2 separate regions of the Homo sapiens genome follow, and region 1 is linked to region 2. A link means that fine-mapping ties the variant in region 2 to the expression of a gene that starts in the linked region. Tissue or cell type: blood mononuclear cells. Region 2 holds a variant in brackets; the other region holds the start of a gene. All regions are shown on one strand. Distances are from middle to middle.

Region 1 (5,862 bases), 27 kb after region 2:
AGTATCACCTGGGGGAGTTTACAAAGAGTATTCTCAGGTCAAACTTTAGAGAGCTTAATCCCATCTGGAGTGGGGCTCAGGATTCTGTTATTTTTTTTGAGACAGAATATCAGCTCTGTCACCCAGGCTGGAGTGCAGAAGTGCAATTTTGGCTCACTGAAACCTTCGCCTCCAGAATTCAAGCCATTCTTGTGCCTCAGCCTCCCAAGTATTTGGGATTACAGGCGTGCACCACCACATTCAGCTAATTTTTTTGTATTTTTAATAGAGATGGGGTTTCGCATGTTTACCAGGCTGGTCTTAAACTCCTGACCTCAGGTGATCCTCCTGCCTCAGCCTCCCAAAGTGCTGGCATTACAGGCGTGAGCCACCACACCCGGCTTTTTTTTTTTTTTTTTTTTGAGATGGAGTCTTGCTCTGTCCCCTAGGCTGGAGTGTAGTGGTATGATCTTGGCTCACTGCAACCTCCGCCTCCCAGGTTCAAGTGATTCTCCTGCCTCAGCCTCCCGAGTAGCTGGGACTACAGGCGCGTGCCACCACGCCGGGTTGATTTTTGTAATTTTTTTTTGTGTATATATATATATACACATATATATATACACGTATATATATATACACGTATATATATATATACATATATATATATACGTATATATATGTATGTGTATATATATATATACGTATGTATATATATATATATATATATATATATACGTATATATATATATAAAGAAAATGCTATATGGTTATTTTTCCAGTTTTGTAAAACCGTTTAATCATCTCTCCTCTTTCTCGGCTACCGAGTTGGGATAGAAGGCAGAACCTGAAAATGTACAAGCAAAACTTCTGTGTTCGTCTACCCTTTACTTTTCTGCCAGTACCTTCCAGAGATTTCGCCAAGACGCCCGTTTGTCTTGGGCATTGTTAGAGAGTAACTCTGTCTACTGCTAGTCACATTTCCTTTCCTTTCCTTTCCCTGGGGGCTTAATGGATACCTTTTTGGGGGCAGGAAATACAAACTAAATGTTTATAAATGAAAACATCAACTGAAAGAGCCTTTGTCCTAGATGTGGAGGTTTGGTGTATGAATCCTCAGAAACTACTGAATTCCGCCCCGGTGCTAATTATTCTTAGGGGAGGCACATAAAAACATCATTTATTGTTAGAAATCATGACATGATACAAAGTCAAAATCCACTTGTGTCTTGCTAAAGACTACAGAAAGCCATGCTCAGCAGCTTCTTCTCCAATGCTGGCCAGCAGCGTACCTTTCCAAGTCACAAAGCAGTTCATCCCGCCCTCAAGGAGCCGACAGGGCAGCCCAGAGCCTCCCACTGACAAGTGTGGTCACCCACTCAAGATACTGGGAAAGATCCCTGTTCTAGCATCACATTTTAATCAGATTTGTCAAAATCAGGTTGCTTGGGGCAAAGGCTCTTTCACCGAGGATGCTAGTCCTGGAAGACTTCTCCTTCGGCGAGCCGCCAGCTCAATCTTCTGAACCAGGCTCACATCCCAGGGATGGGTCACAAAACTGATGACGGTGCCTGGCACCTCGCTCCCCACACGGCCCACTCTCCCTGCTCTGTGGATGTAATCTTGCAGCGTTGGGGGGAAATCATAATTGACAACCAGCTCCACACCAGTGCTGTCCAGGCCCCGAGAGGCTATGTCTGTGCAGAGAAGTATGTCTCGGGAGCTCTTCTGGAAGGACTGGAAGATTCCTACCCTCATCAAGGCTGGCATTTGCCCCTGCAACCTTAGGTGTTGGATTTTGTGGTCATCCAGAATATATCCCAGCCAGTTCACAGTGCTGGAGCTATTACAGAACACCAGAACAGTTCCTGAGGGACCAGTCCTTTCTGCTCTGTCACGATGCTTGAGGATGTGCACCAGCTCGGCCACCTTATCTGCTCCCTTCAGTCTCAGAAATGTCTGTTTCACATGAGGCATGATACAGTGGAGCTTGGAGCTGGTGATGGTGGTGACAGCATCTGGGCTGGCGACTTTATTCAGCAACTGGCCTACACCTTCGGGAAATGTGGCTCCTACCAGCACTAACTGAGCTTTGGGATTGAAGGGGTCTTCCAAGTCAGCTGGGCCTTCTGCTATGTGGCTCTTCTCTAAGATGTAGTCCACCAGTTCCAGGAAGCTTTCATCCAGCAGTGTGTCTGCCTCATCCAACACCAAGAAGGAGAGTTGCTCCAGACTGATCAGTCGACTTTTCAGGGCCTTCCACAGAGCCCCTGGAGTGGCCACAAGCACATCTGCTGAAGGCTGTCTGGACAGCTGCAGCCTGATCCTACGCATGCCGTGGCCTCCCTCCAGGTCCCGCACCAGCAGGCCCAAGGAGCGGCCCAAGGGTTGGGCCACAGCCCGCACCTGTTGGGCCAATTCTCGGGAAGGAACAAGGACCAGGCCTCGGGGCGCGGGGATAGGAAGGGAGTCCAGGCTTGGCTGGCCCAAGAGCCGTTGAAGCAGCGGCAGGAGGTAGCTGAGAGTCTTGCCACTGCCGGTTTCTGCGGCGCAAACGACATGGCGGCCGCGAAGTAGTGAGGGGATGGTGCTAGACTGCACGGTTGTGGGCTGAACGACTTCAGGCGCAGCCTCCTGTAGTGCGTGCAGCACACGGGGCTCCAGGCCCAGGTCAGCAAAGCTGCCCTTAGACGAGAGCTTTCGCACCGCTGGCGCCTCCTGTTGCGCGCGCTCGATGGAGAAGTGGTCCCGACGCGCGCGTCGACTCTTCCAGCCTTGAGAGGCTAGCGGCGCGCGCTCCCAACGGCCCAGTGTGAGGCGCGCCGGCTGGTTCAACTCCGGCCGCCGCGCCGAAACCAGCAGCGGTCCGGGTCGAACCAGCACCGGCCTCGGGAGGTTCCGCCGCCTGCTCTGCCGCTGTTCCAACTGCCGCTGTAGAGCCACTGGGATGCGCACCACCGGCAGGGGTTCGTCGGGACTGCGGACCGTGAGGCCCCGTCGCGGCGCCAGGAGCAACCGAGTCACGAGGGAAAAGAGCCGCACCGGCCGCGTTAGAGCCATGTTTCCCTTAGTGCGGGAGAAGCGCACATCAGTGACGTCACGGACGCGCCGCGACCTCGCGTACGGTGGCTGGCGAGGCTCAGTACGGTGTGTGGAGCTGGAGCACCGTGAGGAAGAAGCGAGGTTCTTTTTAAGAGTTCAGCTGCGAGGTCTGTAGCTCCGAATAGGGGATGGCGACATCCAGACCCGGCCAGCCTTGGGGAAGGGCGCGTCGTGGAGGCAGGACTGGAGGCTGGCGATACGAGGCGGCAGTGGGGCCTTGACCCAATGGACCATGAGGGCGGAGGGCTTCTGGCGATTGGTTACCTGGTTCCTGGGATTCTCTTTAGTTGTTCCTCATTGCCCTGAGATAGCTTGTCCCGTGCTGGTATCCGAGGTTGCAGCTGTTTTCCCAGATGTGTTCCCTGCGCAGGGTCTGGTAATCCGTGTTTATTGAGAGTTTGAATGAATGATCAGGCCTAGGGGCCGAGACAGGGGTCTGAAGTCATAGATCTGGGCTCAACCCCTCACCCTCTCTGTCTGTGAGCCCAGAGTGCAAGCTGATGGCTTTCAGCTTCTTCTCTCTCTCAAGTGGGAGATAAGGTCTTCAGGTTTTATTTCAAGTTGGGTCATCTTTTCTTCACAGTTATTTTCCTTCCTTTTAAGCCAAGGTTCACTCTCTACTCCCTCGTCACGCGTCCCAACTTCTCATCCAGAACCCACCCCTCTTGCAGCCCGCTCAGCTCCACTGGCTTCCCCGTCAGAAACCTGAATTACCTAAAATAGTAGTAAGAAGGGTGCTGCGACCCTACAAAGTGATCAAGTACGTGGCTTATCATGTAGCCCTGGTCAGGCAGAATATTTTACCTGAATTCAGATATTCGGGTTGTAAAAACAAGAACTATACGAGTCACTTTTTTTTTTTTTTTTTCTGAGACACAGTCTCGTTCTGTCACCCAGGCTGGAGTGCAGTGGCGCAATCTCGGCTCACTGCAACCTCCACCTCCTGGGTTCAGGTGATTCTCCTGCCTCTGCCTCCCAAGTAGCTGAGACTACAGCCGTACACCACCCACGCCCGGCTAATTTTTTCTGTTTTTAGTAGAGACAGGGTTTCACTATGTAGGCCTGGCTGGTCTCGAACTCCTGGCCTCAAGCGATCTTCCCACCTCGGCCTCCCAAAGTGATGGGATTATAAGCGTGAGCCACCATGCCCAACAGATACTTCTTGAACAGATCTGGAAAATGGGTGTCAGATCTTTTCTGTAATTTGCAGTGCCTGGGGTGGGAGATAAGGTAAATATTTATGGATTAACTCTCTGGGAGGTTCGTAACATCTGGAGAAAACGTTTTAGTTTCATCAAATACCAATGAAAAGATAAAAACTTTGCTTTTTTTGGAATAGTATGAGGAAAAACTTTCACAATTTTAAGTACACTCTACCCTTGTGCTACACAATTAGACTTTCTGGAGAGTTACCAGATAAATCAGAGGAAGAGAGGCTTTTTTTCTCCACAAGAAAATATCTGGAAGTAGGAAGAGAAAGTTTTGAGTAGTGATGGGTGAATGAACAGTCATTGGATAGGGTAGTGGTTCTAAAACAAGGGTGATTTTGCCCTTTCCCTCCCACCATATTTGACAATGGCTGGATACTTTTTTTTTTTTTTTTTTTATAGACAGTCTCACTGTGTTGCCCAGGCTGGAGTACAGTGGTGCGATGTCAGCTCACTGCAGTCTCTGCCTTCTGGGTTCAAGGGATTCTCCTGCATCAGCCATCTGAGTAGCTGGGATTAGAGGTGTGCGCTACCACTCCCAGCTAATTTTTGTATTTTTAATAGAGACAGGGTTTCACTACGTTGGGCAGGCTGGTCTCAAACTCCTGACCTCATGATTTGCCCACCTTGGTCTCCCAAAGTGCTGAGATTACAGGTGTGAGCCGCTGTGCCCGGCCCAATTCTATGCTACTTTTATGATTCTTTCCAAACTCAGGGCTTCTCCTTATCCAAATAGTTCCTTGGGGCCAGGCTCATGCCTGTAATCCCAGCTACTCGGGAGGCTGAGGCAGGATAATCGTTTGAACCCGGGAGGCGGAGGTTGTTGCAGTGAGCCGAGATCGCACCATTGCACTCCAGCCTGGGCGACAGGGCGAGACTCTGTCTCAAAAAAAAAAAAAAAAGGTCCCTTGGATGTTTGTCCCAACAGGTTTCATCCATTTCCATGTGCCACTGTTTTTCAGATATCAAACAAAGAATTACTCTGTACAAAGCCAGAACACATATATCAAAGTAATCCTGAAGTATCAGAACAAAATAATAGGTATGTATATGCATTTGGGTTTTTGGGTTTTGTTCAAATATCCAGGGTAGGGTAGCTGGTTAATATATAGTTGTTTTCTCATTATGCTTGAGTCCTTACAATATGATTACCTCAAAATTTCACAGGAGTTAGAGCTTGCCTAAGCCTGTCTGTGTCCGTGGCCACTAATTTCTTCTTGTCACATCACTAGACACTGCCTACCTTTTTTCCCCCTCACTCACAGAGGACATTGATTAACTTCTAAATGTTTTCTGAGATATTTTTATAAGTAGTGCTTTAGAAATAGGAAAGGTATCCTTATTGTGAAAAAAAATCTAAGCTCCTGAGATCAGGAGCTTGGTGTGTTCCTTGGATCTCAGTTAATAATGGTATATTCATTCATTCATTCAATCATTCATTCAACAAATACTTCCTGAGCACCACGCATGTGCCAGGCATTGGTAGTGAGGAAAACAGCCAAAATCCCTGCCCTTGTGGAGTTTACATTCTGATTTAATTGATTTGGGTTAAGGCCTAGACAAGGTCTTGCTCTGT
Region 2 (5,862 bases):
GGATCCCTGTCCTGGGCGCCCACTCGCGGCCTGTCTTAGGGCCCTCCACCCTCCCTTTTACTCCTCCCACTGTCCCCAGGGGGCCGACCCAGGTGGCTCCTCTGCTGCCCCTAGGCTCTCTCTCTAAGAGAGAGGGCCTGGGGTGCTTCCCCCAAACAGTGGCCCTCTGCCCTGCCCTGGGAGATCTGCAGACCACGTCATGTCCCCAACCGCCTGCAACGTGTCCCGGCCACACCCAGGGCCACATGTGTCCCTGTGACCACAGTGCTCTGGGCTCTGGATTTCCTGGTGCTGGGTTGTGTGGGTGGGTGTGGGGGAGAAGATAGGCTCTGGAAATGAGGGGTTAACCCTGTGGACTGGATTCAGGAAGGGGCCCCCTGGCCCTGACCTTCTCTCTCCCGTAACTTAGGCCCTCAAGCCTATACTCTGGGGAATCTCCCAGCTACTAGGACCTGTCAGGAGCACTCCTCCGCCCCCCGCCCCGACCGCACATTCTCCAATCAGCCTTAGGAAAGAGCTCCTTCCTAAGGAGCTGCCACACCTCCCCAGGACCCCAGTGGAGGGATGAGAGCGCAGCAAGCATCTGGCCACTGCCAGGGAACATTCACTCAACAGAGCAGGAACCCACACAGCCATCTGCATGGAAGGAAATGAAGTCTTGTCTAGGGCAGCAGAGTCCCCGGCCGCAGCACCTTCCTCCTAGAGCTTCTGGCTGATCTGCTGGCCAGGATACCTCCTACCTCCTTGAGGAAGCCCCGGCCTCGTCCAGGTCAGGAGTAAGGGGCCTGAGGAAAGCCCTGCCACCTGGGTTCTGCAGCCACACTCCTCTTATCTTGTGGCTCCTGTGGCTTGAGCTCTCACAGAAACCTCCAGGGCTGAGTCCCTTCCTTGACGACAGGCCCCACCCCATTCCCGGCCTGGGGCCCTCAACCTAGATGCCTCCTCCAGGAAGGACCCCCAACCACACAAGCACACAAGCTCACAATCACACAGGCACAGGGGATGTGCCCGCTCACAGAAGCCCCACGACCTGAGATCTTCCGGGACTGTGGCCAAACCCCTTCGTCCTCAGAGACCTTTGCCTCCTCCTGCCCCTCAGGCTCTCAAGACTCTGCTCTGAACCTTGGCACCCCTGGAACCGCTTCATTTTTTGGAGCCTCCCCCACGTGGCAGGGCTGATCAGTGCATGGGTAGTGTGACCTAAGCCTGACGACGACTAGAGATTCAAGAAGGCCTCCTAAAAAGAAAATGAACCAACTCTTCCAAAGGGACTGGAGGTCCCAAGCTACCCAGGAGGGGAAGTGATCCCAGCTTTGATGTATTTTAGGGACTGCACACTTGATGTTGCCCAGTGTCTGCTGTCCAGGAGGAAGGCAGATCGATGGCCGAGTGCTCGAGGTGGGTTAACTGTCACGTCTACTGCTGCCGAAGGGGGTCTTTTTTTGTTTGTTTTGAGACAGAGTCTCACTTTGTTGCCCAGGCTAGAGGGTAGTGGCACAATCTTGGCTCACTGCAATCTCCACCTCCTGGGTTCAAGCGATTCTTGTGCCTTAACTTCCCGAGTAGCTGGGACTACAGGCATGCGCCACCACGCCCGGCTAAATTTTGTTGTTTAGTAGAGATGGGGTTTTGCCATGTTGCCCAGGCTGGTCTCGAACTCCTGGTCTCAAGCAATCTGCCTGCCTCAGCCTCCCAAAATGCTGGGATTACTGGAGTGAGCTACCGCACCTGGGCTTTTTTTTTATTTTTTATTTATTTTTTTAATTAAAGACTGTCTTGCCTTCTTGCCCAGGCTGGTCTCAAACTTCTGGCTTCAAGTGATGATCTCACCTTGGCCTCCCAAAGTGCTGGGAGTATAGATGTGAGCCACTGTGCCCAGCCCTGCTGGAGGGTTCTATAGGGAGGCCCACTGCAGATGGTGAGTCCTCTTGGGCTCTGCTTCAGAGAACAGTAGGGCGTGTCCCAGATCTGGGTGGTTTGGGTACCCCAACACAGGCTTCCCTCCTTCTCTCCATCATCCACTGCTGGTCAGCAGCTCCCCACACCCACTGGAATAGTGAGAGGGAGGAGAAGCTCTTGGATTTGCTGGTCTCCAGGTCAAAGATGTGGTTTTGGGGATAAACAGTTTATTCTGAGAGCCCCAAGAGGTAAGGGGCATAAAGAATGAGGAACTGAACCTGATCATTATGTGTTATATGTATTGAAACATCACTATGGGTGGGGCGCAGTGACTCACACCCGTGATCCCAGCACTTTGGGAGGCCGAGGTGGGTGGATCATCTGAGGTCAGGAGTTCGAGACCAGCTTGGCCAACATGGGGAAACCCCATCTCTATTAAAAATACAAACATTAGCCGGGCTTGGTGGTGCGCGCCTGTAGTCCCAAATACCTGGGAGGCTGAGTTGGGAGAATCGTTTCAACCCAGGAGGCAGAGGTTGCAGTGAGCCGAGATTGGGCCACTGAACTTCAGCCTGGATGACAGAGCGAGACCCTGTCTCCCCCCGCCAAACAACAACAACAACAACAACAACAACAACAAAAATCACTATGTACCCCATGAATATGTGCAAATTATTATTATTATTGTTTTTGAGATAAGGTCTTGCTCTGTCACCCAGGCTGGACTGCAGTGGTGCAGTCTCAGCTCACTGCAGCCTTAACCTCTCAGGTTCAATCAATCCTCCCACTTCAGCCTCCCGAGTCTGGGACTACAGGTACTCGCCACCACACTCGGCTATTTTTTTTTTTTTTTTTAGAGACAGGGTCTCACTATATTGCCCAGGCTGGTCAATTATTATTTGTCAGTTTGAAAAATGTAAAAATAAGGAAGGGGTAGGTAGGAATAAATAAATAACAGCTGACAGAGTAGGTGAGGAGAATTCAACTTTTTGA[ATTTTTTTTCTT/A]TTTTTTTTGAGACAAAGTTTTGCTCCTGTTGCCCAGGCTGGAGGGCAATGATGTGATCTTGGCGGGCAATGATGTGATCTTGGCTCACTGCAACCTCCACCTCCTGGGTTCAAGTGATTCTCCTGCCTCAGCCTCCCAAGTCACTGGAATTACAGGCATGTGCCACCACACCTGGCTAATTTTGTATTTTTTAGTAGAGATGGGGTTTCTCCATTTTGTTCAGGCTGGTCTTGAACTCCTGACCTCAGGTAATCCACCCACCACGGCCTCCCAAAGCGCTGGGATTATAGGTGTGAGCGACCGCACTCGGCCAACTTTTTGCATTTTTTTTTAAGCTTCTCTCCAGAGCCCGAATGTCTGACCTCCTGGGACTTGGGGTACCTGCTAGCTCAGCAGAGGCAGGCTGAGTTGAGCCAGTAAAAGTGAGCACTGTCTCTGTAGGAGATAAGCCAGACAACACAATTTTCCATGATATGCAACTTCAGTCCTCAAATGTGGCCTTGAGGGGACCATACAAAGCGAATCACAGACACACCCACACTTGTAGTTGCAGTGAGCATTATGATAACACCATAGCATTCCAGCCTGGGTGACAGGGCAAGACCCTGTCTGTAAAAAAATAGATAATGATATTATTATTATTATTATTATTATTATTATTATTATTATTATTATTTTCTGAGACAGAGTTTCATTCTTGTTGCCCAGGCTGGAGTGCAATGGTGCAATCTTGGCTCACTGCAATCTCTGCCTCCTGGGTTCAAGTGATTCTCCTGCCTCAGCCTCCCGAGTAGCTGAGATTACGGGCGCATGCCACCACTCCCGGCTAATTTTTGTATTTTTAGTAGAGATGGGGTTTTGCCATGTTGGCCAGGCTGGTCTCGAACTCCTGACCTCAGGTGATCCGCCTGCCTTGACCTCCCAAAGTGCTGGGATTACAGGCATGAGCCACCCCCGACCCTTGGCCAAATTTTTTATTTTTATATTTATTTGTTTATTTATTTTGAGATGGAATCTCGCTCTGTCGCCCAGGCTGGAGTGCAGTGGCACAATCTCGGCTCACTGCAAGCTCCGCCTCCCGGGTTCAGGCCATTCTCCTGCCGCAGCCTCCCGAGTAGCTGGGACTATAGGTGCCCGCCAACACGCCCGGCTAATTTTTTGTATTTTTAGTAGAGACGGGGTTTCACCGTGTTAGCCAGGATGGTCTTGATCTCCCGACCTCGTGATCCACTCACCTTGGCCTCCCAAAGTGCTAGGATTACAGGCATGAGCCACCGCGCCCAGCTCACATTTTTTAAAATGGAAGAAATAGGTATGGCTTTTCTGTAGGGAATGGGCTGGAGGCCAGGAGATCAGGAGGGGTAAGGAATGAAGGGGCCTGTAAGGGGGAGAAGCAGTGGGAACAGGAAGGAGACATTCCTGGGACATGTTTGGAAGTTGAACCCAGGATTTGGAGATGCTTTGAAGCAGGGTTGGTGGGAGACAGTAAGGAGGAATCAGCGGTGACACTTAAGGTCGGCTCTGGAGTCAGGCCCTGAGTTTCCCCGCCTCTGCCTTGTTTCCACTCTGCCCACTGCCAGCATCTAGCTAACTTAGACTGTAGCCTCTGACCCCAAATTATCCCTGTGCTCAGGTCTGTGCCACTGATATTGGCAGCTCCTAATGAGAGGTGACAGCGTGCTGCCAGTCCTCACAGCCCTCGCTCGCTCTCGGGGCCTCCTCTGCCTGGGCTCCCACTTTGGCGGCACTTGAAGAGCTCTTCAGCCCACCGCTGCACTGTAGGAGCCCCTTTCTGGGCTGGCCAAGGCCAGAGCCAGCTCCCTCAGCTTGCAGGGAGGTGTGGAGGGAGAGGCGCGAGTGGGAACCGGGGCTGCGAGCGGCGCTTGCGGGCCAGCTGGAGTTTCGGGTGGGCGTGGGCTTGGCGGGCCCGCACTCGGAGCGGCCCGCGGGCCCTGCTGGCCCCGGGCAATGAGGGGCTTGGCACCCGGGCCAGTGGCTGCGGAGGATGTACTGGGTCCCCCAGCAGTGCCAGCTCACAGGCGCTGCGCTCGACTTCTCACCGGGCCTTAGCTGCCTTCCCGGGGGGGCAGGGCTCGGGACCTGCAGCCCTCCATGCCTGAGCCTCCCACCCCCTCCATGGGCTCCTGTGCGGCCGGAGCCTCCCCGGTGAGCGCCGCCCCCTGCTCCACAGCGCCCAGTCCCATCGACCACCACAGGGCTGAGGAGTGCGGGCGCATGGCGCAGGACTGGCAGGCAGCTCCACCTGCATCCCTGGTGCGGGATCCACTGGGTGAAGCCAGTTGTGCTCCTGAGTCTGGTGGGGACGTGGACAATCTTTACGTCTAGCTCAGGATTGTAAATACACCAGTCGGCACTCAGTATCTAGCTCAAGGTTTGTAAACACACCAATCAGCACCCTGTGTCTAGCTCAGAGTTTGTGAATGCACCAACTGACACTCTGTATCTAGCTGCTCTGGTGGGGCCTTGGAGAACCTTTGTGTCGACACTCTGTATTTAGCTAATCTGGTGGCGACGTGGAGAACCTTTGTGTCTAGCTCAGGGATTGTAAACGCACCAATCAGCACCCTGTCAAAACAGACCACTCGGCTCTACCAATCAGCAGGATGTGGGTGGGGCCAGATAAGAGAATAAAAGCAGGCTGCCTGAGCCCGCAGTGGCTACCTGTTCTGGTCCCCTTCCACACTGTGGAAGCTTTGTTCTTTTGCTCTTTGCAGTAAATCTTGCTACTGTTCACTCTTTGGGTCCATGCTGCTTTTATGAGCTTTAACACTCACCGCGAAGGTCTGCAGCTTCACTCCTGAAGCCAGCGAGACCACAAGCCCACTGGGAGGAACAAACGACTCCAGACGCACTGCCTTAAAAGCTGTAACACTCACCACGAAGGTCTGCAGCTTCACTCCTGAGCCAACAAGACCACAAACCCACCAGAAGGAAGAA

The links. PIP is the estimated chance that this variant, and not a neighbour inherited with it, causes the effect.
Region 1: it holds the start of DUS2, and the variant in region 2 is fine-mapped to the expression of DUS2 in blood mononuclear cells (TOPMed, PIP 0.91).

Annotation. Positions count from the first base shown.
Region 1 is chr16:68,020,167-68,026,028 of GRCh38, forward strand. DUS2 (dihydrouridine synthase 2) reads left to right here and starts at 3,118. Exons shown (of 17, transcript NM_017803.5): 1 at 3,118-3,185; 2 at 5,249-5,328. It overlaps DDX28 (DEAD-box helicase 28), which reads right to left and starts at 3,066. Exons shown (of 1, transcript NM_018380.4): 1 at 750-3,066. The coding sequence starts at 3,036. The coding sequence ends at 1,414. RefSeq lists enhancers at 1,767-2,517, 2,518-3,268, 2,979-3,218.
Region 2 is chr16:67,993,466-67,999,327 of GRCh38, forward strand. The region is part of intron 1 of DPEP2 (dipeptidase 2); the gene reads right to left. Among named protein-coding and RNA genes, the nearest start is that of DPEP2, 3.1 kb to the right of the region's middle. RefSeq lists a silencer at 1-110 and an enhancer at 4,442-4,958. The variant ATTTTTTTTCTT/A (reference allele first, on the strand shown) is at 2,893.